Homo sapiens: one gene and its partners. The protein of the gene in region 4 purifies or fractionates together with the protein of the main gene of each other region. This does not show direct contact. Each region holds a gene or a part of one and is shown on either strand. Other genes may lie near its edges.

The links.
Region 1: the proteins of TRMT10C (region 4) and CAMKV purify together in Homo sapiens (co-immunoprecipitation; one large-scale study listed by IntAct). This does not show direct contact.
Region 2: the proteins of TRMT10C (region 4) and ANAPC7 fractionate together in Homo sapiens (co-fractionation; one large-scale study listed by BioGRID). This does not show direct contact.
Region 3: the proteins of TRMT10C (region 4) and GRSF1 purify together in Homo sapiens (affinity purification with western blotting; one study listed by BioGRID). This does not show direct contact.
Region 5: the proteins of TRMT10C (region 4) and GAB2 purify together in Homo sapiens (co-immunoprecipitation; one large-scale study listed by IntAct). This does not show direct contact.
Region 6: the proteins of TRMT10C (region 4) and NT5DC2 purify together in Homo sapiens (co-immunoprecipitation; one study listed by IntAct). This does not show direct contact.
Region 7: the proteins of TRMT10C (region 4) and HECTD3 purify together in Homo sapiens (affinity purification with mass spectrometry; 3 studies listed by BioGRID and IntAct, with this or other methods). This does not show direct contact.

What each region holds. Positions count from the first base shown.
Region 1 is NC_000003.12:49,859,907-49,863,406, forward strand, and holds part of CAMKV (caM kinase-like vesicle-associated protein), read right to left. Parts: exon of another isoform or gene 3,469-3,500; intron 2,497-3,468; 5' UTR 2,483-2,496; coding exon 2,388-2,482; intron 2,271-2,387; coding exon 2,139-2,270; intron 1,960-2,138; coding exon 1,885-1,959; intron 1,672-1,884; coding exon 1,533-1,671; intron 1,395-1,532; coding exon 1,274-1,394; intron 1,113-1,273; coding exon 1,037-1,112; intron 947-1,036; coding exon 810-946; intron 644-809; coding exon 565-643; intron 353-564; coding exon 265-352; intron 1-264. UniProt on the Homo sapiens protein: Does not appear to have detectable kinase activity.
Region 2 is NC_000012.12:110,379,709-110,383,208, forward strand, and holds part of ANAPC7 (anaphase-promoting complex subunit 7), read right to left. Parts: intron 3,253-3,500; coding exon 3,135-3,252; intron 2,241-3,134; coding exon 2,044-2,240; intron 1-2,043. UniProt on the Homo sapiens protein: Component of the anaphase promoting complex/cyclosome (APC/C), a cell cycle-regulated E3 ubiquitin ligase that controls progression through mitosis and the G1 phase of the cell cycle.
Region 3 is NC_000004.12:70,826,391-70,829,890, forward strand, and holds part of GRSF1 (G-rich sequence factor 1), read right to left. Parts: intron 1,647-3,500; coding exon 1,462-1,646; intron 1-1,461. UniProt on the Homo sapiens protein: Regulator of post-transcriptional mitochondrial gene expression, required for assembly of the mitochondrial ribosome and for recruitment of mRNA and lncRNA. Binds RNAs containing the 14 base G-rich element.
Region 4 is NC_000003.12:101,560,574-101,564,667, reverse strand, and holds the start of TRMT10C (tRNA methyltransferase 10 homolog C precursor), read right to left. Parts: upstream 2,801-4,094; 5' UTR 2,665-2,800; intron 1-2,664. UniProt on the Homo sapiens protein: Mitochondrial tRNA N(1)-methyltransferase involved in mitochondrial tRNA maturation. Component of mitochondrial ribonuclease P, a complex composed of TRMT10C/MRPP1, HSD17B10/MRPP2 and PRORP/MRPP3, which cleaves tRNA molecules in their 5'-ends.
Region 5 is NC_000011.10:78,222,321-78,225,820, forward strand, and holds part of GAB2 (GRB2-associated-binding protein 2), read right to left. Parts: exon of another isoform or gene 2,883-3,500; coding exon 2,788-2,882; exon of another isoform or gene 2,752-2,787; intron 2,410-2,751; exon of another isoform or gene 2,290-2,409; intron 1,357-2,289; coding exon 1,092-1,356; intron 208-1,091; exon of another isoform or gene 1-207. UniProt on the Homo sapiens protein: Adapter protein which acts downstream of several membrane receptors including cytokine, antigen, hormone, cell matrix and growth factor receptors to regulate multiple signaling pathways.
Region 6 is NC_000003.12:52,527,373-52,530,857, forward strand, and holds part of NT5DC2 (5'-nucleotidase domain-containing protein 2), read right to left. Parts: intron 1,963-3,485; coding exon 1,778-1,962; intron 1,564-1,777; coding exon 1,489-1,563; intron 1,321-1,488; coding exon 1,265-1,320; intron 1,168-1,264; coding exon 1,074-1,167; intron 940-1,073; coding exon 811-939; intron 702-810; coding exon 641-701; intron 560-640; coding exon 457-559; intron 347-456; coding exon 245-346; intron 4-244; coding exon 1-3. UniProt on the Homo sapiens protein: Promotes dephosphorylation of tyrosine 3-monooxygenase TH which decreases TH catalytic activity and leads to reduced synthesis of catecholamines including dopamine, noradrenaline and adrenaline.
Region 7 is NC_000001.11:45,005,187-45,008,324, forward strand, and holds part of HECTD3 (E3 ubiquitin-protein ligase HECTD3), read right to left. Parts: intron 3,136-3,138; coding exon 3,054-3,135; intron 2,410-3,053; coding exon 2,227-2,409; intron 2,086-2,226; coding exon 2,033-2,085; intron 1,830-2,032; coding exon 1,765-1,829; intron 1,610-1,764; coding exon 1,506-1,609; intron 931-1,505; coding exon 811-930; intron 698-810; coding exon 608-697; intron 1-607. UniProt on the Homo sapiens protein: E3 ubiquitin ligases accepts ubiquitin from an E2 ubiquitin-conjugating enzyme in the form of a thioester and then directly transfers the ubiquitin to targeted substrates.

The DNA of each region.
Region 1 (3,500 bases), about 52 Mb from region 4:
CTAAGGGTGAGGCTTGCTGGATCCATTGCTTGGCAGTGACCAAACCAAACTCCTTCCATAGTACCCCCGGCCACCTCCATCCACCCCAGGGCCAAGTACTCAGCTGCTCAGCACTCCTACTTAAGGTAATCACAGTGGCTACACCCACACCTGATGGCCTGAGAAAAGCTTGTGTGTGGCTGCAGGGGTGTGATGCAGGCAAGAAACTGAGTGCCAGAAGCAATACTTGGGATAGAGCCAAGAAGGGAGTTATCCAAGCCTTACCTTCCACTTGGCCCTGGCAAAGTTCTTTTCAATCTGGGCACAGACACCATCCTTGATGTTCTTATCAGAAGCAGCATTGCCAGAAATCCTGGAAAGGGTGCAAGTGTGTCTGGATCTGAGAGAATGAGCCTTTGTGGAGACTCTGCTCAGCCCTTCTATGTGGCATCCAGGGACTACCAGGCAGAGCCTCTGGGCTGCCCTGAGCTCTAGGTACCTGCACCCCTTCCAGGCCTCAAAGATGGGGCTGCTGGGTGTGAGGGGGACCCTGGCCTCTCCCACCCTCCCCTGGACCCTGCTCACCACTCATGGGAGATGGCCTCTTCTGCAGTGATCCGCTGGTCTTGCTCCACCTCCATCAGCCTTGTGACCAGGTCTTTGGCTGTGGACAAAACCAAGAAGGGGATAGTCATGGGCACCCCATCTCAATGTCTAGAGGTGATAAATGGGCTGGGGGACAGAAGCAGAATACCACAGAGGAAGATGAGAGCAGGACACCCTCCCCACTCCCTTGCGTTCTACCAAGTGCTGGGCAGGCACCTCCTCACCTGCCTGCGAAATATCATCCCAATATGGAGAGTCAAACTCATAGTCACCAGCCAGGATCTTGCGGAAGAGATTCTTATCATGGTTCTCATAATCATCTTCTTCCACCTCCTCATAGAAAGGTGGATTGCCTGAAAGCCTGCATGGGGGAAGGGTCACACAGAAAGGCCACAGACACATGCCCCCACCCCATCTGACTGCAAGCCTGCTTGTCCATCTGTCCACTCACAGGATGTACATGATGACTCCAATGGCCCAGCAGTCCACAGGGCGTCCATACCGCTGCCGGCCTACCACCTCTGGGGCTACAAACACAGCGCCCATCTGCTGGTCAGTATCAGGCCTAGCCAGGTCCAGTACCATCCACACCAGCTTCCTGAGATGAGCACATTTTCCCCCTGCCCAGAGCAGCTCCCTGAAGGCTGCCCCCCATTATCCCCCTGCCCCTGCCCCACCCCCTGCTTGCCCAGATACTCGGGGGTCCCACAGGGCTCCTTGATGAGGCCATTTTCTAGCTTAGCCAGATGGAAGTCACTGATGACAATCTTCGAGTTCTTCAGCCGGTTGTAGTAAACCAGGTTCTCCAGCTGTGGTGTGAGAATAGCATGTGGGTGAGCAGAAGACACCATGAGGACCTTGGAGGCTAGACCAAGGCCCTGAGGTGCTGCCCACCCCAGCACCAGCCCAGCTGCCAACTGGCCCTTTGACTCTGGCTCTGCCCTCACCTTGAGATTCCTGTGCACGATCTTGAGTGAGTGCAAATAGGCCACGGCCTCCAGGACTTGCCGTACCACGTTGCTTGTGTCTCGCTCCGAGTAGTAGCCCTGGTCCAGGATCCAGTCAAACACCTCCCTCCCCGTGGCCCTGAGGGACACCAGCCCCTGAGCCTGGCGTGGGCAGAATCAGGGGTAGGGCAGGAGCACTTGGGTGAGCTGCCTACGCCAGGCAGCTGGCTGAGCAAGGCACAGGGACCTGGGACGCCAAGGGTCCAGAAAGGGGGTTTCCTTAGCTGCAGAGGGTGGGACAGGTGAAAGCCCTGGGCGCTGGGGAATCTTGGGTCCCCAGACCCACACTCACAGCTCCAGGAAGATAAAGTACTCCTTGCGGGTCACAAACACATCCACCAGCTGTAGGATGTTGGGATGCTTCACCCTGGCGACAGGGAGGGGAGCCAGTAGTTAGGGCTGGATGAACCCCTGGGAGAGGCTGTGGTCACCACAGTGGCCACAGCAGACTAATTGGCCAGAGGCTGGGACTGCCTGAGGCCACTTGCCCTCTAAGCCCTTCCCTGCTGCCTCCCACCCCGCCCCAATCCCAGGCCTCAAACTCACATCTTGAGGATGCCTATCTCGTTCTTGGCAGCTTTCCGCACCTTGCGGCCGTCCCGCTTCTGGAACTTCTTGCAGGTGTGCAGCTTGCCTGTCGTCTTGTCCTTGGCCCGGAAGATTTCACAAAACTCCTCACTGCAGCCGACAGGCACCCACTCAGGCCTGGCCTTAGCATCAGCTGCACTCCACTGCCACTTCCCTAGCCCCTGCTCACCAGCCCACCCAGCCTTGCCTGACAGGCCCGGCACTCACGTCTTGATGACCTGTCCCAAATCATATCTGTCAGTCACCTCCGATGGCTGGTTATAGTTCTTCTTGTCGCCCAGAGTCACACACCCAAACGGCATTGCCAGGCTCTAACCTGCGGGCACAATGGGGTCTGGCTTAGCTGTACTACTCTCCACTTCCCCACAACATAGGGGCTGCTTTTGGGAGACCCCAACCTGGCTCAGGCCAAGCTAGGGGCAGAGACCATACCAGGAGGGGCTAGAGGATAGGCAGGCTTAGATCCTACCCCTGCTTTTCTGGCTAGACATCCAGCTACTCAGCTTGGCTGCCTGAAGTGCAACAGCCTACATATGAAAAAATGTATTAAGCTGATATATAAGGGAATAGTTTTGTATTCTATACATTCAAAAAAAAGGCTTATCAAACAGTTTATTTAAATTTCAGCTATTTTACAGATGAAGGGGGCTATAACCACCCACCCACCTGCTAGTCATCTCTGAAGGTCTAGAGCTAACAAGTGTTAGTGGATATATGAAGAACGTGAGCACTGCTAGGAGAGGGCAAACTCCCCTTTGTAAAGCAGTTTGGTAAAACCACTAAAGTCAAACAAACATACCCTATGAACCAGCAATTGCACTCCTAAATACGTGCCTACAGAAGTGCACATATTCGTGCATCAGGACAGTCATACAATGCTCATAGTAGCCATATACATAATCGCCAAAAATTGAAAACAGACCAAATACCACCACCAACAGGATGTATTGTGGTAGAGTCACACAATGGAATATTATATAGCAATGGAAACAAAGGAGCTACAGCTATACCCAACCACCTGGTGACTCTTACACAGTGTTAAGTGCAAAAAGACACAAAAGAATACATATAGTATGAGTCTATTGATAGAGTTCAAACAGGCAGAACAAACCCGTAAGGGGGATACAAACACAGCAGTAGAGCTATAAAGAAAAGCTAGGAAATAAGCAGAGTCAGATAATGGTCCCTTCTAAGAGAAAAGGAGGGGTTATGATTGATTCAGGACACATGGGGGGATTCTGGAAGACCTATTTCTTTTCTTTTCTTTTCTTTCTTTCTTTCTTTTTTTAGAGACAAGTCTCACTATGTTGCCCAGGCTGG
Region 2 (3,500 bases), on a different chromosome or scaffold from region 4:
AATTTGAACTCATCTTCCTGTTAAGAGCAAATCACTCCTAGACTCCTAGGTTTATTTTTAAATGCTTATAAAAATATGTTTTGGAGGAACTGCATCTTGTAAGATCTATTTTAATGTCTGTGACTGAGTCACCAAACGTTGCTGAAACTGGCACAGCTCCTTTGAACTCCCAGGGTCAATTCACATGAACTTAAAATATTACATAACAAAACAAAGTTGGACCCTGATTGTGCCCACTCTGGAGGTCACAATGAACAGACCCATTCCCACAGCCAACACTATCATATGGATGTGGAGTTATCCCACGAGTACTAACTCTGGCCCAAGGTAAGATGGCCACGAAAAAGAATAGGCCTAACAGGCCATGTACAGTGGTTCACGTCTGTAATCCCAGCACTTTAGGAGGCTGAATTGGGCAGATCACTTAAGCCCAGGAGTTCGGGACCAGCCTGGCTAACATGGCGAAACCCCATCTCTACTAAAAATACAAAAATGAGCTGGGTGTGGTGGTGTATGCCTGTAATCCCAGCTACTCAGGAGGCTGAAGCAGGAGAATCACTTAAACCCGGCAAGTGGAGGTTGCAGTGAGCTGAGATTGCACCACTGCACTCCAGCCTGGGTGACAGAGTGAGACTCTATCTCAAATAAAAATAAAAAAAATAGGCCGGTTGTGGTGGCTCATGCCTGTAATCCCAGAACTTTGGGAGGCCAAGGCAGGCAGCTCACGAGGTCAGGAGTTCGAGACCAGCCTGGCCAACATGGTGAAACTCCATCTCACTAAAAAATACAAAAATTAGCTGGGTGTGGTGGTGGGCGCCTATAATCCCAGCTACTTGGGAGGCTGAGGCAGGAGAATGGTTTGAACCCGGAAGGTGGAGGTTGCAATGAGCCAAGATCATGCCACTGCACTCCAGCCTGGGTGACAGGGCGAGACTCTGTCTCAAAAAAAAAAAAAAAAAACAGGACCCGGGCACGGTGGCTCACGCCTGTAATCCTAGCACTTTGGGAGGCCGAGGCGGGCGGATCACGAGGTCAGAAGATTGAGACCATCCTGGCTAGCACGGTGAAACACTGTCTCTACTAAAAATACAAAAAATTAGCCAGGTGTAATCCTAGCTACTGGGGAGGCTGAGGCAGGAGAATGGCATTAACCCGGGAGGTGGAGCCTGCAGTGAGCCGAGATCATGCCACTGCACTCCAGCCTGGGCAACAAAGCGAGACTCTGTCTCAAAAAAAAGAGGAGTAAGAGAAAAAAAATAGGCAAACTAAGTGATCTTGCATGGTGTCTGACACAGAGAGATTCATATTAATGAGTACGCCACACTGGATGGGGGCGAGCGGTGGGAGGACAAAAAAAAAAAACCCCATCCCAACTATACCCTCACCAAAAACCAGAAAAAAAATCAGAAAAAATGGATTATGAAAGTATGGGGTGACAAATCCAGTGAAAGCCCTAAATAAATGTAAAATGCCTAATGCAGTGGTTCCCAAACCTGTCTGCACATTGGTAACCCCTGGGGACCTCCAAAAATATCGATGTCTATTCCCAATTCCATGTATTTCCATCTACACTGGAGAGACCCAACGTCAGGATATTGAAAAGCTTCCCCGGATGATGTTTTTTTGTTGTTGTTGTTGTTGTTTTAATAGATGGAGTCTTGCTCTGTCGCCAGGCTGGAGTGCAGTGGCGCAATCTTGGCTCACTGCAACCTCCGCCTCCCAGGTTCAAGTGATTATCCTGCTTCAGCCTCCCAAGTAGCTGGGACTACAGGTGTGAGCCACCATGCCCAGCTAATTTTTGTATTTTTAGTAGAGACGGGGTTTCACCACGTTGGCCAGGATGGTCTCAATCTCTTGACCTCATGATCTGCCCGTCTCGGCCTCCCAAAGTGCTGAGATTACAGGTGTGAGCCACCACGTCCGGCCAGCTTCCCCAGATTATTCTAACAGAGTTTGGGAAGTGCTGGCCTAATGAAACCTTCCATCTGAGGGCTGCTGCCACACCCACGGATTCACACCATTCACCTATGTTTTCTTTCTTACCTTCATAACAATCTAAGCGACAAGGTGCGAGCCGTATGGCCTCCCGAAAGTGGATTATTGCTTCTTGGACTCTGCCCATGTTCCTAAGTGCTGCTCCCTTAAGTAGCAGAGCTTGAACACTATTACTGTTCAGCTGAATGGCCTTGGCTCCTAAATAGAGGGCCCGGGAGTAGCGTTTGCTATAGAAGCTGTGACAGCTGGAGAAAAAAAAAAAAAAAAAAACACAAAAACCCCAGAAGTTATCCAAGAGAAGACTACAAAGAAAGTTGATCCAAAAATCATATTGAAGGCCCTGAACATAATCCTTATTCCAAACCACACTTATAGTTTTAACCTAAGATATTAGTAGAAAAGCAAAACAAACCAAAAAATCCACTATTTATTTTTAAGGGGAAATCTTGATATGGAAGAGAAAAATTATGAAAAAGAACCTATGATCTGGATATTAGTTATTAGCAGAGAGGCATTCAGAGAATTTGTAAAGCCAGGTTAATAAACAAAGGAGCATCTTCTGGCCCCATCACTGATGGCTCAGTACTAAGCACAATGCATTCACCAACTCAGTTAATGCTTAACCCTAGAAGGAGAGGTTATTAGCCCATTTTCCAAATGAGAATACAGACCTAGATAGGTAAATAATGCATCCAGAGTCATAAACTATTATTTGAATCCAGGGCTGATTATCCTTTTAAAAAAAAAAAAAAAAAAAAATATATATATATATATATATATATATATATATATTTATAGAGACAGGGTCTTGCTACATTGCCCATGCTGGTCTCAAATTTCTGGCCTCAAGTAATTACCTCTTTTTATTTTTATTTATTTATTTTTGAGACAAAATCTCACTCTGCCGCCCACCTGGAGTGCAGTGGCACGATCTTGGCTCACTGCAACCTCTGCCTCCTGGGTTCAAGCAATCCACCTGTCTCAGTCTCCCAAAGTGTTGAGATTACAGGCATGAGCCACCATGCCTGTCCAGGTGATTACCTCTTAAACCTGTGCTTTCAATTTATATTCTCTTCAAGAGCAACCATTATCTCTTAATCTACTGACAACTGGGGAGAAAAGAGAATGCATAATCATACCCAGAAACCACCCACGGTTCTGCATGCTGATCAGAGATATTGAAAAGGCGGCATCCAAGGTTCTCAACATCCTCTAGCCGCCCTTCTCGTGCCAGTAGGTAGCCATATACATCCATTCCTAGAAGAGAAGGACATAGTGAGAAGAGGTGTTTTAAGAAGAGAAGCAGGGGTCCCACATACAGGAGTAGCACCCAACATCAGACCCCATGCTGAGGCCCCAGCTCCTGCAGGGGCTAAGCCCTTTCCACCATCACAGGCTCCTCCAACTACTATTTCCAGTTTCCTACAAAGTGACTATTAAAATGCAAAACCCAGGTTGGGCACAGTGGCTCACACCTGTAATTCCAGCACTTTAAGAAGCCGAGG
Region 3 (3,500 bases), on a different chromosome or scaffold from region 4:
CAACAAATATCACCTGAACACCCATAAGCACTGAATGCCTCAGACCATTACCAGTTTAAGAACTTAGCCCTTTTTGTAACATCAGAGAGCAGGTAAAATGATTATGAATTAAACCCTAAAAGAGACTTTCTAGATTATAGGCACTGAAAAAAAAAAAAAAGAACAAAGGCTGGGCGTGGTAGCTCACACTTGTAATCCCAACACTTTGGAAGGCTGAAGCAGGAGAATCACTTGAGCCCAGGAGTTCGAGACCAGCCTGGGCAACACAGCCAGACACTGTCTCTACAAAAAATAAAAATAAAAATAAGTTAGCTGGGCATGGTGATGCATGCCTATAGTTCCAGCTACTCAGGAGGCTGGGGTGGAAGAACTGCCTGAGCCCAGGAGTTCAAGGTTGCAGTGAGCCATGATTGTGCCACTGCACTCCAGAATGGGCCACAGAACAAGACTTTGTCTCAAAAAACAAAAATATATATACACATATATATAGTGACAAGATAATCCCAGGGTACCAGTTTAAAAAGTATTTATGAAACTTAAAAGATTCCAAATGTTGCCCTGGGTTAGGAATCAAAGAAATAATTAAATCCAGAAGCAAACAAAAATCCTTACTTCAGGCGGGCACAGTGGCTCATGCCTGTAATCCCAGCACTTTGGGAAGCAGAGGCCGGCAGATCACCTGAGGTCAGTAGTTCAACGCCAGCCTGGCCAACACGGGGAAACCCCGTCTCTACTAAAAATATAAAAATTAGCCGGGCACGGTGGCAGGCGCCTGTAGTCCCAGCTACTCGGGAGGCTGAGGCAGGATGATGGCGTGAACCTGGGAGGCGGAACCTGCAGTGAGCCGAGAGTGCGCCACTGCACTCCAGCCTGGGCAACAGAGTGAAACTCTGTCTCAAAAAAAAAAAAATCCTTACTTCAGTCAATATTCCTGCTCATTATCCAAATCTTCCCCCATCTTAATTTAAATGTTGACATCTTACTTCCTTTTATCACATTTTTACTACCCAGCTTTTGATATAGTTAATAAAAATGATTAAATTAAAAACCTAGCAAAATAATTAAGCCTTTCTGCATATACTCAAAGTATGTAAAGTCCTATTAAATCTTTAGGCCGGGTGTGTTGGCTCACACCTGTAATCCCAGCACTTTAGGAGGCTGCGGCTCACTTGAGGTCAAGAGTTCCAGACCAGCCTGGCCAACGTGGCGAAACCCTATCTCTACTAAAAATATAAAAATTGGCTGCGCGTGGCGGCATGCGCCTGTAGTCCCAGCTACTCAAAGAGGCTGAGGCAGGAGAATCACTTGAACCCAGGAGGTAGAGGCTGCAGTCAGCCGAGATCGCACCACTGCACTCCAGCCTGGCAACAGAGCGAGACTTCATCTCAAAAAAAAAAAAATCACAAAACCCAAAACATTCAAGATAGACCCAATGAGTCTCAAGAAGAGGCAGGACCTTACCTATTTCCTTCTCACTTTCAAAAGCTGTCATGGGTTGAATATCCTCATTTACTTCATGTTCTTCAAAGACCATTTCTGGCTCAGTTATATACTTAGCAGTAGGAAAAGATGCGATTTTCTTTCCCTTATAAGAACCGACATGTGTTCGAACTTCATTCCTTCTGCTTGGAAATATCTCGATGTATCTATGTCAAAGCAAAAGTAAACAGGCACAAATGGTGCAAAGTAACTTTATACTGAACTCATTTAAAATAAACATGTATACATTATATTTCCAACAGCTTATGAAACACAGGTGTCAAAAGATAACAGGTAGGGAAAACTAATAATGCATACAGATAGTAGCCCATGAAAATATACAACAGAGTAGGTCACTGATTTAAGTTTTTGCATCAAGGTAACACTTTTTCTTCACATACATTTTAATAATATTTTCTACTCTGTTTTGCTTCATGAGAACAACTATGCTTAAGTTAATTGTGTATACAGAAAAAATTAATCTCATAAGGGTTTTTTAAATTGCTGGTTAACAATCTCTTGAAGCTCTGAAATTCAATTCTGTGCAAATTAATCATATCTGTATAAGATATTAAAAGTCACAGTAAAAGAAGAGCTAACTTCCCCAGAACTTCACTAAAAGGCTGAGAATTCAAGAACTAAGTATCAATTATGACTTGCTATCACAGGAGGGGACTATCTATTAAACCCAAGCTTCTGGAACAATTTTTTTTTTTGAAACTTGGGTTTCTTGCTGTCACCCAAGATGGTGTGCAGTGGTGTGAACATGGCTCACTGCAGCCTCAACCTCCTAGGCTCAAGTGATCCTCCTGCCTCAGCCTCCTGAGTAGCTGGGGACTACTGCCACCTGCCACCACACACTGCTAATTTTTTTTTTTTTTTTTTGAAGCAGAGTTTTGCTTTTGTTGCCCAGGCTGGAGTGCAATGGCACGATCTTGGCTCACTGCAACCTCTGCCTCCTGGGTTCAAGCAGTTCTCCTGCCTCAGCCTCCTGAGTAGCTGGAATTACAGGCGCCCGCCACCACGCCCAGCTGATTTTTTGTATTTTTAGTAGAGACAGGGTTTCACTATGTTGGCCAGGCTGGTCTCAAACTCCAGACCTCAGGTGATTCACCTGCCTCAGCCTCCCAAAGTGCTGGGATTATAGGCATGAGCCACCATGCCCAGCCCACACACTGCTAATTTTTTTATTTTTTATTTTTGTAGACATGGGTTCTTGCCATGTTGCCCAAGTTGCTCTTGAACTCCTGGGCTCAAGTGATCCTCCCACTTCGGCCTCCCAAAGTGCTGGGATTATAGGCATGGGCCACCGCGCCCAGCACAGTTTCCTTTTTCTTAACATGGCCTTCTAAACTAAGAGTTATAAAACTAGCTTGTGTTTACAAATCTATAAAGATTAGATGAGCACTACTTCTTTAAAAAAAAAACCTTTGAGCCTGGACAACAAAGTGAGACACCATCTCTACAAAAGTTTTTTTTTGTTTTTTTTTTTAATTAGCCAGGAGACCAGGTACAGTGGCTCACACCTATAATCCCAGTACTTTGGGAGGCTGAGGCAGGTGGATCACTTGAGCTCAGGAGTGTGAGACCAGCTTGGGCAACATGCAAAACCCCGTCTCTACAAAAATACAAAAATTAGCTGGGTGTGGTGGCATGTATCTGTAGTCCCAGCTACTTGGGAGGCTGAAGTGGGAGGATTGCTTGAGCCCAGGAGGCCACAACTGCAGTGAGCTGTATCACACAACTGCACTCCAGCGAGGGTAACAGAATAAGACTCTGTCTAAAATTAGCCAGGCATGGTGATGCATGCCTGTGGTACCAGCTACAAGGAAAGCTGAGATGGCAGGACTGCTTGAGCCCAGAAGGTCAAGGCTGAAATGAGCAGTGTTTGTGGCACTGCACTTCAGCCTGGGTGACAGAGCAAGATCCTGTCTCAAAAAACCAAAAAACCTTTGAACCACTTCTATCAGTAGATCCTGAAACACTGGCTTTGGAATGGCTGTTTTGTTTACTTCAAAGGA
Region 4 (4,094 bases):
TTTGAAACACAAGGTAAAATCTTTGTACCAATTTTTTTCCTAGACTCCTGTGGTCTACAGCCTGTGATCACTCATTGAGTAAAAAGTTTAAAACTTAGTTGGGTTCTTGGCCGGGCGCAGTGGCTCATGCCTGTAATCCCAGCACTTTGGGAGCCTGAGGTGGGTGGATCACCTGAGGTCAGGAGTTCAAGACTAGCCTGGCCAACATGGTGAGAAACCCCATCTCTACCAAAAATACAAAAATTAGCCAGGTATGGTGGCAAGCACCTGTAATCCCAGCTTCTCGGGAGGCTGAGGCAGGAGAATTGCTTGAACCCGGGAGTTGGAGGTTGCAGTGAGGCGAGATTGTGCCACTGCACTCCAGCCTGGGTGACAGAGTGAGATTCTGTCTCAAAAAAAAAAAAAAAAAAAGTTGGGTTCTTATTTTAGACATGAATTTCACTATTGCTTTAGCTAAAAGGATAAGTTGAAGATCCTTTTTAGATTTTTATCTAGGGGCCCAGAGAATCAATGTTACTGGGCAACAAAGTTATGTACCACCGAGGCAGCTGACATCATGATGCTGCATACTCCTCCATTCTACACTAAGCCCAGATACAGAACCAAACATAAGATCCTTCACAAAAGCAACAAATAAAGACAAAGGACATGAAAGGTACTGAGAATGGCAACAGGTAAAAAGCACTTAGAAACTGCTGTACCAATGCCCTCGTTACAGAAATATACCAAGATCTACTGATCAAAAAATAGCAACAAATTCTTCCCCAGTTCAGGCTTTATTTTGCAGCAAATAATGTTATTAACAAAGAAAATGTCCAAGATTGAGACAAATGTATATAAATGTATATAAAGCTCCACAGTTTTATCCTAAAAGCCTGGATGTCCATGAGATATTGAAGATGCTTAAAGATGTAAAACTTGTCTCAAATTTGAAGGAAAAGAAATAAAGGGAATTCAAATTTTTACAAAATGCAAATAAAACACTTGAAAAATTCCTTCTTCCCTTGGCTTCATTTAATGACCCTGCACAGGCTCCTAGGTTTCCTGCTCTCTGACCTGTGCACTGATGTCCAGATGCCCCTCCCTTAAAGGTGGATGTAACTCCGCATTCTATCCTATTCTTTTTTTTCAATCTATACATTTCCCTTCTGAGATGTGACCTACTTCTGTGGCTTCAATGACCATGCATTAGAAAGACATCTCAAATGCAGGCCGGGTGCAGTGGCTCACTCCTGTAATCCCAGCACTTTGGAAGGCCGAGGAGGGAGGATCGCTTGAGGTCAGGAGTTTGAGACCAGCCTGACCAACATGGCGAAACCCTGTCTCTACTAAAAATACAAAAATTAGCCAGGTGTGGTGGCGCATGCCTGTAATCCCAGGTACTCGTGAGGCTGAAGTGGGGCGATTCTTCTACTTCCCAGGTACTCGTGAGGCTGATGTAGAAGAATCGCTTGAATAAGGGGGGCGGAAGTTGCAGTGAGCCGAGATTTTGCAACAAAATCTGTTGCAGTGAGCGACAGAGTAAGACTGTCTCAAAACAACAAAAACAAACAAAAAACACCTCAAACGCAACAAATCGAAATAACCCCTCTACCTTTGCTTCACAATCTGATCCTCCTTCAATGTTCTGTTTCAAGGGATATTGCTATCCATTGGTATTGTTCCCAACATATATTTCTAAGCTTATTGCGGCCAGGTCAGCAGCATCTCTAGCTATTCTTCACCTCACACTTCAAGTATTCCACCATTACTTTTCACAGCACTCTGGTGCCTATGACAGTACTTCTAACACTGCACTGTAATTGCCTGGTTATCTATTTGCCTCACTAGATGGTAAGGACTAACTAGTGTCCATGAGGACAAGGACTTTGTCTATAATGTTAACATTGAATCCAATGCTTGACAGTATTTGGCTCACAGTAATCACGCAAATATTTTTCTAATACCCTAGATCGATGCTTCCTTCATTAAAAAAAAAAAAAAGAAAAAAAAAGTTCAGCCTCCCTTTATTATTTTTTTTGAGACGGAGTCTCGCTCTGTCACTCCAGGCTGGAGTATAGTGGCGCGATCTCGGCGCAAGCTCCGCCTCCCAGGGTTCACGCCATTCTCCTGCCTCAGCCTCCCGAGTAGCTGGGACTACAGGCACCCGCCACCACGCCCGGCTATTTTGTATTTTTAGTACAGACGGGGTTTCACTGTGTTAGCCAGGATGGTCTCGGATCTCCTGACCTCGTGATCCGCCCACCTCGGCCTCTCATTGTGCTGGGATTACAGGCGTGAGCCACCGCGCCCGGCTCAGCCTCCCTTTAAAGAGAAAACAATTTACTTTAGAATCCCGGAAATATTTAACTGGGGTCCCCAGGCCCCAATCTAATAAACATTGATTTCAGAAGGAGTTTTAAAAGTTTTATTCTTGTAACTGGCAAGGACTTAGAATACCACAGAAATGAAAACCCCAATTGTAAAAAGCAATCAAGTACATCATTTCAGGAACCACTGATTTTGTTTCAGGTACTGTACTAGTTATAGTTTATTAAAATCACTGGGCTTCCTCTTACCCGTGGGCCTTCCGAACGCACATGCTCCACTAAGTGCATCTTGGAACGTCTCCGGCGTCCTCCCACCCCCAACACACACATTAGGCGAAAGAAGAAACTCGCTTACCAGGAGTGCAGAGATAGTGGTTCCCGCTGGCGCAAAGAACAGGGACCCTGGAGGACGAAGGACTCCGACGTACGGACGCCCAGGGATCCGCGCCGAAGCTAGCACGCAGCCTACCCAACAGTCTACACAGCCGACCAGAGCGGTCGCTGGGGCTCAGCCGGAAGTTCCGCCCTCTCCCTTCCGGCGCTGCTTTTTACGTCACAGCACGCAAAGAACGCTTTCTTGGCTAAAAGAAGCGCCTTAGAGGAGACGGCTGTCAGTAGGCAACTGGGTACTCGAAGACTACGCTCTCAGTTGTCACGGAGTTGTAGCTGTGTTGTGTTGTGTTTTCCTCCATATATCCTAAAAACTTCTTCTGGGCCGGGCCAGTTGGCTTACGCCTGTTATCCCAGTGCTTTGGGCGGCCGAGGCGGGCGGATCACTTGGGGTCAGGAGTTTGAGACCAGCCTGGCCAACATAGTGAAACCCCGTCTCTACTAAAAATACAAAAATTAGCCAGGTGTGGTGGCGCGCGCCTGTAATCCCAGTTGCTCGGGAGGCTGAGGCAGGAGAATCGCTTGAACCTGGGAGGCGGAGGTTGCGGTGAGCTGAGATCGCGCCACTGCACTCCAGCCTGGGCGACAGAGCAAGACTCTCTGTCTCAAAAAAAAAAAAAAAAAAAAAAAAAAACTGTTTCTAATCCTCTTTTCAACCTACTCTCTGTTTGGGCCCTGTATTTATAAACATTTGCTGACAGAGTACTAAAATAAAGTATGTTTTTTTCACACGTCTTCTTACTCAGCTTCAAACTCCTTGACGCTAGGACTTTAAACTCCTAATCTTTTTGACCAGTTTATCACCAGTACCTGGCACTATGCTTGGAACGTGATAAGCCACGGTAAGTTTCTGTCTCCTCCTAGCTCATTTGGAAAGTTTAATGTGAAATGAAATTAAAACACATTTGTAAATTGGTGGCCTTTGGGGCCAATTCAGCCTCCACATATATTTGTAACCAAACACAGAATGAACATATTCTGCAGCCATTCTACTCCTAGTAATATACCCAAAGAAATTGAAAGCAGAGACACAAACAGACACTTGTACTCTAATGTCATTGTAGCATTATTGATAATAACCAAAAGGTGGAAGCAACCCAAATATCCATGAACAGATGAATAGATTAAAAAATGTTGCATGTACATACAATGGAATATTATTCAGTCTTAAAAAGGAATGAAGTTCTGATACATGGTACAACATGGATAAACTTTGGAGGCATTATACACTGAGATAAGCCAGGCACAAAAGGACAAATATTGTATAAGTCCACCTATATGAAGTGCCTAGAATAGTCAAATCATAAAGAAAGAAAGTAGAATAGTGTTTACCAGGGGCTGGGGAAAGGGAAGAATGGGCAGTTACTGTTTAATAGGTATGAATTTTCAGTATGG
Region 5 (3,500 bases), on a different chromosome or scaffold from region 4:
ACTGACGCTCAGCGAGGTTGTATAATCTTTGCCCATATTGATGAGCCTTGAAGTCATGTCTTCAGATTCCAAATTATATATTCTTTCTGCTGTATCTATGGTAATTATATTTTCAGAATCAAAAGTGGGGACACAGGGTTTGACAACAGATTTTTCTCCCTCAATTTATGACTTCATTTAAAAATAAAAGACTATATATAAAATATATTTATATATTAATATATTAATATTTATAAAAATATATACTATTTATATATTAACACACATATATGTATTTTTTAAGACGGGGTCTCACTCTGTTGCTCAGGCTGGAGTGCAGCGGCGCAATCTCAGCTCACTGCAACCTCTGCCTCCTGAGTTCAAGTGATTCTCCTGCCTCAGCCTCCCTAGTAGCTGGGACTATAGGCGCCTGCCACCACGCTTAGCTAATTTTTATATTTTTAGTAGAGACGGGGTTTCACTATTTTGGCCAGGCTGGTCTCGAACTTCTGACCTCAGGTGATCCACTCGCCTCAGCCTCCCAAAGTGTTGGGGTTACAGGCGTACAGGCGTGAGCCATGGCGCCCAGCCAAGAGACCATATTTGAAGTATAGATGGTCACCGTGACTACTCCCTGCTGCTCCTGGCCAGGTCGGTGCAAGCCACAGTGGAGGAAGGTAGATGCCATAAGGGCTTGAGGGCTTCAGTTCCAAATGCTAAGATTTGAATTCCCTGTTGGCCAGACCCACAGGGGGCTATCTCTGCCTAGCTATCCTACTCCTCCCTTTGAATCCTTGCCACTGATCCAATGCCAGGAGAGTGAGATTGTAGCAGACGAGGACCTTGCCTGGTCTACATGCAGGGGGCACAAAGCTGACTTTACTGAACGCCTGCTATGTACCAAAGTACTATCCTAGATGCTCTCCTTTGCAGCAAACCTGGGAGGTAGGAATTACCATCTGCATTTCACAGATAAGAAAACTGAGACTCAGATTTTACATGATTTGCCCCAAGTCACACCTCTCAAGTCCAGGATCCACATGACCCCTAAGCAAATGGAAAGAGTCCCTAGCCACTGTCCAGAGATGGGACAGGGGAAAGAATGGACTTACCTTTCCGATCAGGTTTGAGGTTGCGGTTGACAGGGGGTGGCTGAATCTCACTTCCTCTGCTGGGGCCTCGGTGCACAGGAAGGGTTGTTGATGGGTAGCCAAGTGAGTCAAAGTGATGGGCCCCTGGGCTCATTGGGATGTAGACGCTCTGGGAATTATCACCTGCTCGTTCCATGGCCAACAGGGTGGAAGAACCTGGATTCATGGGCACATAGTTGTCTTCAGAATTGGTGCTGTCCGATCGGCCCACAATCATTTTCCCTGGCTAGGGAGAGGAACAGTGAAAGAAATACAGCTGTTACTAGCAAGAAGAAACAGGAAGGGGGTAAGACTTTGTAAATGAGGCAAGACAAGTCATGACTGGGTTAGCTATACTTTGAAGCTGTAAGGGAGACCTTGGGGAGACCAAATAAGAAAGCAGAGTAGTGGGAGGCTGAGGCAGGTGGATCACTTGAGGTGAGGGGTTCGAGACCAGCTTGGCCAACATGGCAAAACCTCCTCTCTACTAAAAATCCAAAGTATTAGCTGGGCGTGGTGGCATATGCTTGTAGTCCCAGCTACTCAGGAGGCTGAGGCACGAGAATCGCTTGAAGCTGGGAGGCCAAGGTTGTAGTGAGCCAAGATCATGCCACTGCACTCCAGCCTGGGTGACAGAGTGAGACTCTGTTTCAAAAAATAAAAAATAAAAAAAAGGAAGCAGAGTGGGAGACAAGAATATATGAGGTCTGTGGGCCCCTTCAAGCCTTCACGATCCTTTGGCATCCACTAATAATTTTTGATAAATCTAGAGTATAAAATATTCTTGGTGACTGGGTCCACTTGGCTTTCTGGACGCCTGACCAACACTGTGGGTGGCATAGTCCATAGACTGTAGGTTTGGTTCAGGACCTGCCCTCCACCTCAAGTCCAGACTCACCACTGGCAGGTCAGCATCTCAGGCCCTGGATCAGAACAAGGAGCATATTAGGAGTCCTGGCTCTGGAAGGTGAGGTCTGGGGCCAGTTGTGTTTCCCCAGTCCAGGTTTCTAAGTACCTGGGGCTCACTCCAGGCACCTAGGGGACCACCAAGCTGCAGTCAGAGCTTCTACAGAGTTGTGTGATACAGCAATCCCAGCCTTCCTCTAACTCTTGCTCTATCTGCCGTGACATACAACTAAGCTGCTTCTGCCTTGGTTACCTGATTTCACTGTCTTTTCAGTGGGCCTGAAGCCAGGCCCTGGTCTTCTTGCCTGACACCTTGGAGAACTGCGGTTAGCATCTTCCAGAGGGCAGCCTGGGATCCTGCACTCAAGCCATAATTCTGCCACTTAGCCTGACTGTGAGTACCACCCTTGCCTGGAGTCTCACACTGCAGCCTCCCTCCTGCATGTGAGGCCACGTGGGTAAGGTTGCTGTCTTAGAGGTTCCCCCACCGTGCAGCCTGGGTCTATTGCATTCTAGATCCTCTGCTTACCTACAAGGTTGGTGAACCTTGTAATCCAGTCTACCTTAGCACATACATTTCTTCCAGACTAGAATACTTATATCTTACTTGTCCAAAGACTCAACGCAGGGTTCTGAACTGAGACAAGAACTTGGGCAGGGTCCTAAGATGGAGACGCCATCAATCTTTTGGGGTTGTGCTTTTAATTCCATAAGGTGTGACCTTTTACCTAACCAGGCCGGCCTGAGGACCCTTGGGTTAACCCACACTCACCAGGAAAGAGCCAACTCCATCACTCATGGATTCAGCAGACCGGCCTGCACTCTCTCCACCACGCTGTGGGTACTCGTAGGTCTCACAGGAAGAAGCTGACAGAGGAAGGAGGATTCATAAGTACTCATGGTTGATTCATGTGTTGACACTTACCCATACCCTCACCAGTGTGGTTCAAGGTCTTACTGATACTCCAGAAGATACTACTCTCAACCCCAAATGATAAGGAATTTCTTCGAACACATCACTCCTCAGTTCAAAAATTCCTCCTGGGCTTCTAGATGTAGCTCCAGTGTTAGCATCTGCAGAGAAGCTGTCCTTGACTACTCTACCCTCATCTATGCACCTCTCCTTTGACTCCTACACCACTCACCTGTCCTGCTCACCCCAGCCATCACTTCTCTGAACACCACAGTAACAATACTTGTCCTGATTTATATGTGTTGGTTTTATTTTCCCAATGAGATGTAAGCTCTGAAGGGCAGGAACATGTTTTATGTATGTCTTTATCATCTCAGTTCCAAAACGGAGTATGACTGCTCAAATTGTCGATGGATTGAAAGACGGCAAAGAGGTCTAAACTAGGAGCTGGGACTCTAGGGTCTGAGTCTCATCTCTGGCACAATGACTCTGCAACTCTATTTAAGTCTCTTAACTGTCATTGGCCTCATGTGAGATGGAGACAAGGAGGTTTTGTCCCACCAACCTCTCTG
Region 6 (3,485 bases), about 49 Mb from region 4:
GGCCTGGGGTGCAGGTAAAGGGCATGACTTCCAGTCTGTGGCTGGGCCACGGGCCGGGCAACCCCCATCCCTCCTCCGTAAAGGCCCACCTGCTCAAGTGGACCCATGCCAGCAAGGGGGTGTTCTCACCCCAAGCACATTGGGCAGTGGGCAAGGGCCAGGTTGGCCTCCTGCTTCAGTCCCCTCATTGGGGTGGGGCCTCTATTCCCCTTCCCTGGCCCTGCAACCCCCACCATGCCCATACTTGCGCCGGTCAGTGAAGAAGCTGGGCTTGTCTGCCTGGACAATGACCACATCGAAGAGCTGGCGCCAATCGGGACCCACCATGTGCCGCATCCCCTTGTCTCTGTGTGGAGGAGTTTCAGGTGGCAAGTAGTCTGAGGGCGGCTCCGTGCCTGCCCTCCCCACCCAGAGCCCTGGCCCTGCTGTCCCTCCATCCACAGGGGCTGGACTCACACGAAGCTGAAAGGACTGTTGGTGATGAGGAACAGCTGTTTCCCATGGGCCACCAGGCGGCTCAGGACAGCAAACGTCTCATCCCCTCTCAGGATGTACTTCTCTAATGGGGCAGATGAGTCTGTGAGGGTCAGTCCTGCCACCTGCTCAGGCCGGCCACGGCAGGGCTTCTGTCCACACTTACCCATGTCCTGCTCGATCCACTGGTACATGAGGCCCTTCACATGCACGTCTCGGATGGCGTCCTGGGGGCAGTGGAGGACAATGAGGGTACAGCAGGGCCCAGGTGGGGCTGTCCCACTGTGGCTGGACTTAGTCTTTCCTGCCATCCGAGGGCAGGCCCAGCATCCTCACCGTCACGTCCTTGTAGAGATGTGCTTGGTCAAACTCCAGGCTGTGGCCCAGAAAGTAGTCCACCACACAGGACAGCAGAGCCATCTCCGGTAGCGAGAAGATGTCCATGAACTGCTTAATGGAGGGACCCTGGGGAGGGGGCCATTGTCTCAGACACCCTTTGGGACCCCAACCCCTTCAGTGCTGGAGACGAGGGCCCCAAATCTGCCTTGGGACATGGGCACATGTCCATGGGGCAGGCTGGCTGCTGGGGTATGGAGTACCTTGCCATAGAAGCCACTCATCTGGTATAGTGGGATGTGCTGGGTACCCCCATACAGCTCAATCACCTCCTCGTCTGGCACAGGCTGGAGGCCCCTGAGCAGGCCCAAGATACCATCAGTCCAAGGTAGTCCTGAGCCAGAACAGCAGTGTAGGGTGGGGCGGGGGTGGGGTTGGGGCAGAGCCGACTGACCTGTAGGCTGTCCCCAGCTGCACGTAGTGGAAGGCGTCAATCTTCATCAGAAGGCTCTGGGGGCGCCAGGGAGGCAGGACGGATGGTGAGGAGGCAGTTTCACCGTGGCCCCAAGCCAGCCTCTTTCAGCCCATGCCAGAACCCCAGCTGGATGGGACGGAGGGGTAATGACCATACCAAGAGGAGGCCAAGGAGGGAGCCCCTATACAGGTCCAGCCACTCACCTTCTGAATGTCATAGTGGAGGCCACGGATGGCAAAGCTGGGGTTGTAGTCATACTTCCGAATCCCTTCTGGGTACTGCCGGGGGAAAGGGGCCAGGCCTAAGCCAATAGCCCTGCCAGACCTGCTGGCTGGGTGGCCACCCCAGGGGGTCAATCCAGCCACCTGCCCAGGGCAGCTGCCAGGCAAGAGGGCCAGGGGAGCCCCACGACTCAGCCCTGAGCTTAGGCCAAGGTGGGTCTGGCCAGCCTCCAAGCCCTGGGTTTGTTGGTGGCAAGGACCCCCGTCTCACCTTGTAGTGCTCGATCAGGATGTCACGGGCGGTACTGAAGATCTCGGGGTGCAGTGCGTCTGCATACTGGGCCAGGGTGTAGTCGTAGTCAAAGCCGTAGACCTCAACGTCACGCAGGCTGATCTCGTTGTTGGCGTAGATGGCTGCTGGGTTCAGGAGACTGCAGACCTCGGGGGGCAGGAGGTCTAGAGGAAGGAGATGCAGGGAGGCAGTGATGGGGATGATGATCCCTGCAGCAGCTATGGCTCCTGAGCACTCTGTGGGGACCTAGCCCTGTGAGCCTCAGAAACGCCCCACAATGGCACCTCTTATTCCAGTGCTGGAGATGGTCAAACAGGCCCAGAGAGAAGTCACTTGCCCAGGGTCACGCAGTTAGGGTAAGGCAGAGCCCCTGGCTGGAGCTCCTCCTCATGGTTACACCTGCCTACATTACACTATCTCCTATAGCCCACCAGGTATACTGAGCCCGTGACTACTCCAGGCCCTCACCACTAAGCCCCATCAGACACAAGGCCATGCTAGAACCCTGGCAGCAGTCACTCAACTCCTCACCGCCTAGCCCCAGAACAGCTGCTTTTGGGATGCTCTACAAAGCAAAGCCTCCCACTTGCTCAAAACCCGTGCAGGAACACCACTGTCTGGCCCCCCACAATTCAGCGCCTCCTCTGCTCCTCTCAGCTGCCCTGCCCTGCCCCCTGGCCTCATCTCTCAGCCTCCCTGGGATTATGTGTGAGGATACCATGTGGGCACTGAGGACTCCAACCCAGAGGGGCTGGCTCTGTATGGCCAGACTAGGGGGTTGAGGCCATGGATGCTGACTTTTCTACCTTGCCCAGAGCTGGGACTGGGGCTCAGGAACATTAGTGGGAGGGGGAGCCCCTCTGCCGATCGGGCTGCCAGCTCTGTGCACTTCCCACAGCCCAGGGAGAGTGAGGCCCCTCTAATCAGATTTCAGCTGCCCGCAAGCCCATATAATGACATTTGCTGGCTCTAGCCAGGGAACATTGCTAATTACGACAGTCAGGACGTGATGTCAGGTTCTGGGCCATTATCCAGGTTGCTCCTTCTGGGGATGTGGTCGTGGCCACCCCAAGTCCCTGGCTGCTCCCAGGAGGCTGCAGTTGGCTTTGAGGCCCACAGCAGGGTGCTGAGCAGAGCACTGTGTGGCATGGGCTCTGGGGTCCCAAGGAGGCAGATGGGGCTGAGAGGCCCCATGTTACCTGCCCTGGTTTCCCTATGTGTACAATGGAGAAAGTGGAAGGGAAAGGAAAGGGAAGGAGATGTGCTAGGAAGGCCACATGCAATGAGGTCAGCCAGACAAGACCAGGCCCTCCCTCTCATGGCTATGACTTCAGGAATGTCACCTCACCTCTTGGGCCTGTTTCCTAGTTTCTAAAAGGGTACAAAAAATTGTACCAAGTGGGGCATGGTGGCACACACCTACAGTCCCTGCTACTCAGGAGGCTGAGGCGAGAGGATTGCTTGAAACCCAGTAGTTCAAGACTGGTCTAAGCCATATAGCGATACCCTGTCTCTGTGAAAACATTTTTAAAAAGAAAAAAAAAATTGTACCAACCTACAGAATTACTAAGACTGTCATATGGAAGGTGCTGCTCTGTGCAGCAATCTCACTCTGCACCTGCACATATGCAGGATTAAATGGGTGATATGTTTCCTGAGCCTATGAGCATCCTGTCCCCAATTTCCC
Region 7 (3,138 bases), on a different chromosome or scaffold from region 4:
TCTGCATTCTATCCTAAGCCCAGGGCCGAGCCATCAATGAGTTTAAATAAGGAGAGTGAAATGAATTACTGTGGCTGCATGGAGACCAAACGGGTAAGAACGGAGACAGGGACACCAGCTTTTTAGTAAGTGATTAGCTAAGGAGGAAAGGTGTCCTCAACCAGGCAGGGAGACAGTAGTGAGACAGGAAAAGCAAACAGATTACAGAGGAAGACTTAAGAATATGGTGGCGAGGGAGAAGAAGGGGTGAAGGATGGCCCTGTGGGCTTTGGGATGGGGAGGAGTGGGACATGGTGCCCTTCTGAGGCAGGAGCCCTAGAGGGGAGTAGTCTTCGGAGAAGATAAAGAACACACTGAGCCTGAGATGCCATCTTGGGGCAAACGTCGAGGGTACAGATACATATATGGCCCCAGGCTTAGGAGAGGCTGGGGCTAGAGGTCAGGATTTTAGGGGTCACGAGTCTACAGACAGTAGTTGAAGCCATGGGAGTGGATGGATTGGAGAGGGATCTTGTGTGTGGTGAAAGAACAAGGTACAGAACAGCCTTAGGGAGGACCAACCTTTAGGGGCTGGGCAGAGGAAACACTGGTTCCAGGTCCTACTCACCAGCACAGAGTCCACAGCTGGGAAGTCCTTGCTCCAGCTCACCTCCTCACCAGAAAGCTGCTTCCACACAAAACCAGGCAGGGCCAGGACCTGTGTGACAAACACTCCCCACTGTCTTCTCACCCTGAGCTGCCCAGGTTTGGCTGGCCTTTCCTTCCAAGGGCCAGGGCTGATCGGACGGGGGTGTGGATAAGGCTACTCACCAGGAACTCCTTACCCCGAAGGGCAGCCCCCATCAGCTGTCCGATCCATTCATACTTGGCAAAGTCTCGGCAGGAGGGGTTGGGTACATACATGTCCCGAGCCTCACCAGTGCCATTGCCCTGCCCCAGAGACAGAGCTGTGAGTGTGGCATGAGATACACCCTATTTTCCTGGCCCAAAGACTTCCCTGAACATTTTCCACTGGGAACATTTTCCACTAAATGATCCCTTCAAATGCACAGTGGCTCCTCCTCTCCCTGTCTGCCCAGAGGTTGCCCTGAGCAACTCAGTCCCTCCTCTGCCCTATTTCTATTTTTTTTTTTTTTTGAGACAGAGTCTCACTGTGTCACCCAGGCTGGAGTGCAGTGGCGTGATCTCGGCTCACTGCAACCTCCGTCTCCTGGGTTCAAGCGAGTCGCCTGCTTCAGCCTCCCATGTAGCTGGGACTACAGGCGCGTGCCACCACGCCCGGCTAATTTTTTATTTTTATAGAGATGGGGCTTCACTTCATTGGCCAGGCTGGTCTTGAACTCCTGACCTCGTGATCTGCCCGCCTCGGCTTCCCAAAGTGCTGGGATTACAGGCGTGAGCCACTGTGCCTGCCCCCTTTCTAGCTCAATCTGGCCCCCTCCTCTGCCCCCTTTCTAGCTCAATCTGGCACCTGGGAGGTTTGCAGAGATGGAAACGGAGATTACCTGGTTGGCTGTGCGTACAAAGAAGGGCAGGGGCACGGGGGTATCCGCTGAGCTAGGGCACAGCTCTTCTGACATATCTGCCAGGCTGTCCCGGAAACCACCCCCTGAAATGACAGATGCCCTCAGCTGGGCACTCAAGAGCCCAGCTCCCATAATGGGGTAATGAATAGGTCCCCCATCATCATTAGCTGGTGAAAAGCCTCTACCACTTTGATAGGGCAGCAAGCAGGACCCTTGAGATCCTCCCTCAGGGCCTCACCTTGGTCAATGATGCCTTCTGCAATAAATTTACACTCCCACCACTGGTCATAGCGCATGGGCCACCTGCAAAAAACGTGGGCAGATTTGTCATTATGTGGGGCCAGGTGCAGCACAATTCATCAGCTCAGAGACCACCTGGGAAAAGCAGTCATGGCGAGGGGTGCCTCGAGCAGTTGTGTGTGTGTGTGTGTGTGTGTGTGTGTGTTTGTGTGTGTTTGTGTGCACAAACAGGTGTCCCGAGTAAGTCCCTCACTCTCATGCCATACCTGTAGTCCAGGGGCTTTTCATATTTGTCAGAGGGCTTGAGGCCTTCATATACCTGGAGGCAAGGAGGAAAGGAGTCATAGGAAAGCAAGACCTGGCCCTATACTTGCCCCAAGAACTTGTTCAGGTCCCTCTTGGCCTAGCCCCCTTGGCCCTTGACTGATCCTATCTCAGTCGGACCCTAGGTGGTGCAGACCTGGGTGAAGACTGCATTCTTGCAGGCAGGGTCTCGAGAGGGGCAGGCACGGTGTTCCATGGCAAGACGGCGGTTGATGTATAGGCGTGGCATGAAGCTGGGCTTGCTGCTCTCAGAGTCACGCAGGCACTGAGCCACCAGGCCTGGCCGCTGGCGGGACAGCAGTAGGAACTGCTTCACTTGCTAGTGAGGAGAGGTGGCCAGAGCAGGAATGAGTGGGCAGTCAGCCTCCGTCCAGGCCCTGGAACTTTCCCCTCTGCCTGTATCCAATTCCACCGTTTCAGTTCAAGTCTAGTCCATCCCTGTCTTTGTCTCCAGTCCCCTCCTTAGTTCAGCCACCAGGGAGAGCTTTCTAAAACAAAAAAATCTAATACTGTCATTACCTTCCTTACCTTTCCAACAGCTCCACTACCCTGGGACAAAGTCCTTGCTTCACAGCCTGGCCCACAGGGCCCTCTGCAACCAGGACCTGTCTCCTGCCCACATCCTTCCACCCTCATCCCTCTGTCATACTCACACCTACTGGCACACTTTTCTCAAGACATCTTGAGCTGCTGGTAACTCCCTGTATGTACCTTTCACGCAAACTGCCCTGCCTGTGCTGTCAATAGCCCTTGGGTATTCCACACACTCTGGAATACCAAGGAGGCTGGGGAACAGCCTCCCAAACACTAAATTTGGACCATTTGTTCTGGCTTTCTTCCTATGTTCCCAGACCCAGCAAAGGTCTTGCCCTAGAGTAGATTTTAGGAACTCTGCTAAGGAATGAACAACTACGTGAGCAGGAAGGGGAAATGCCAAGACCAGCACTGGCTGGGTCGGCTCACCTTAATCTCACTGAAGGTGCCCAGTGTGTGGTCCCAGGCAGGTACCAGGTGGTGCAGGACACTATCGAGGATCTTGATGAATCTG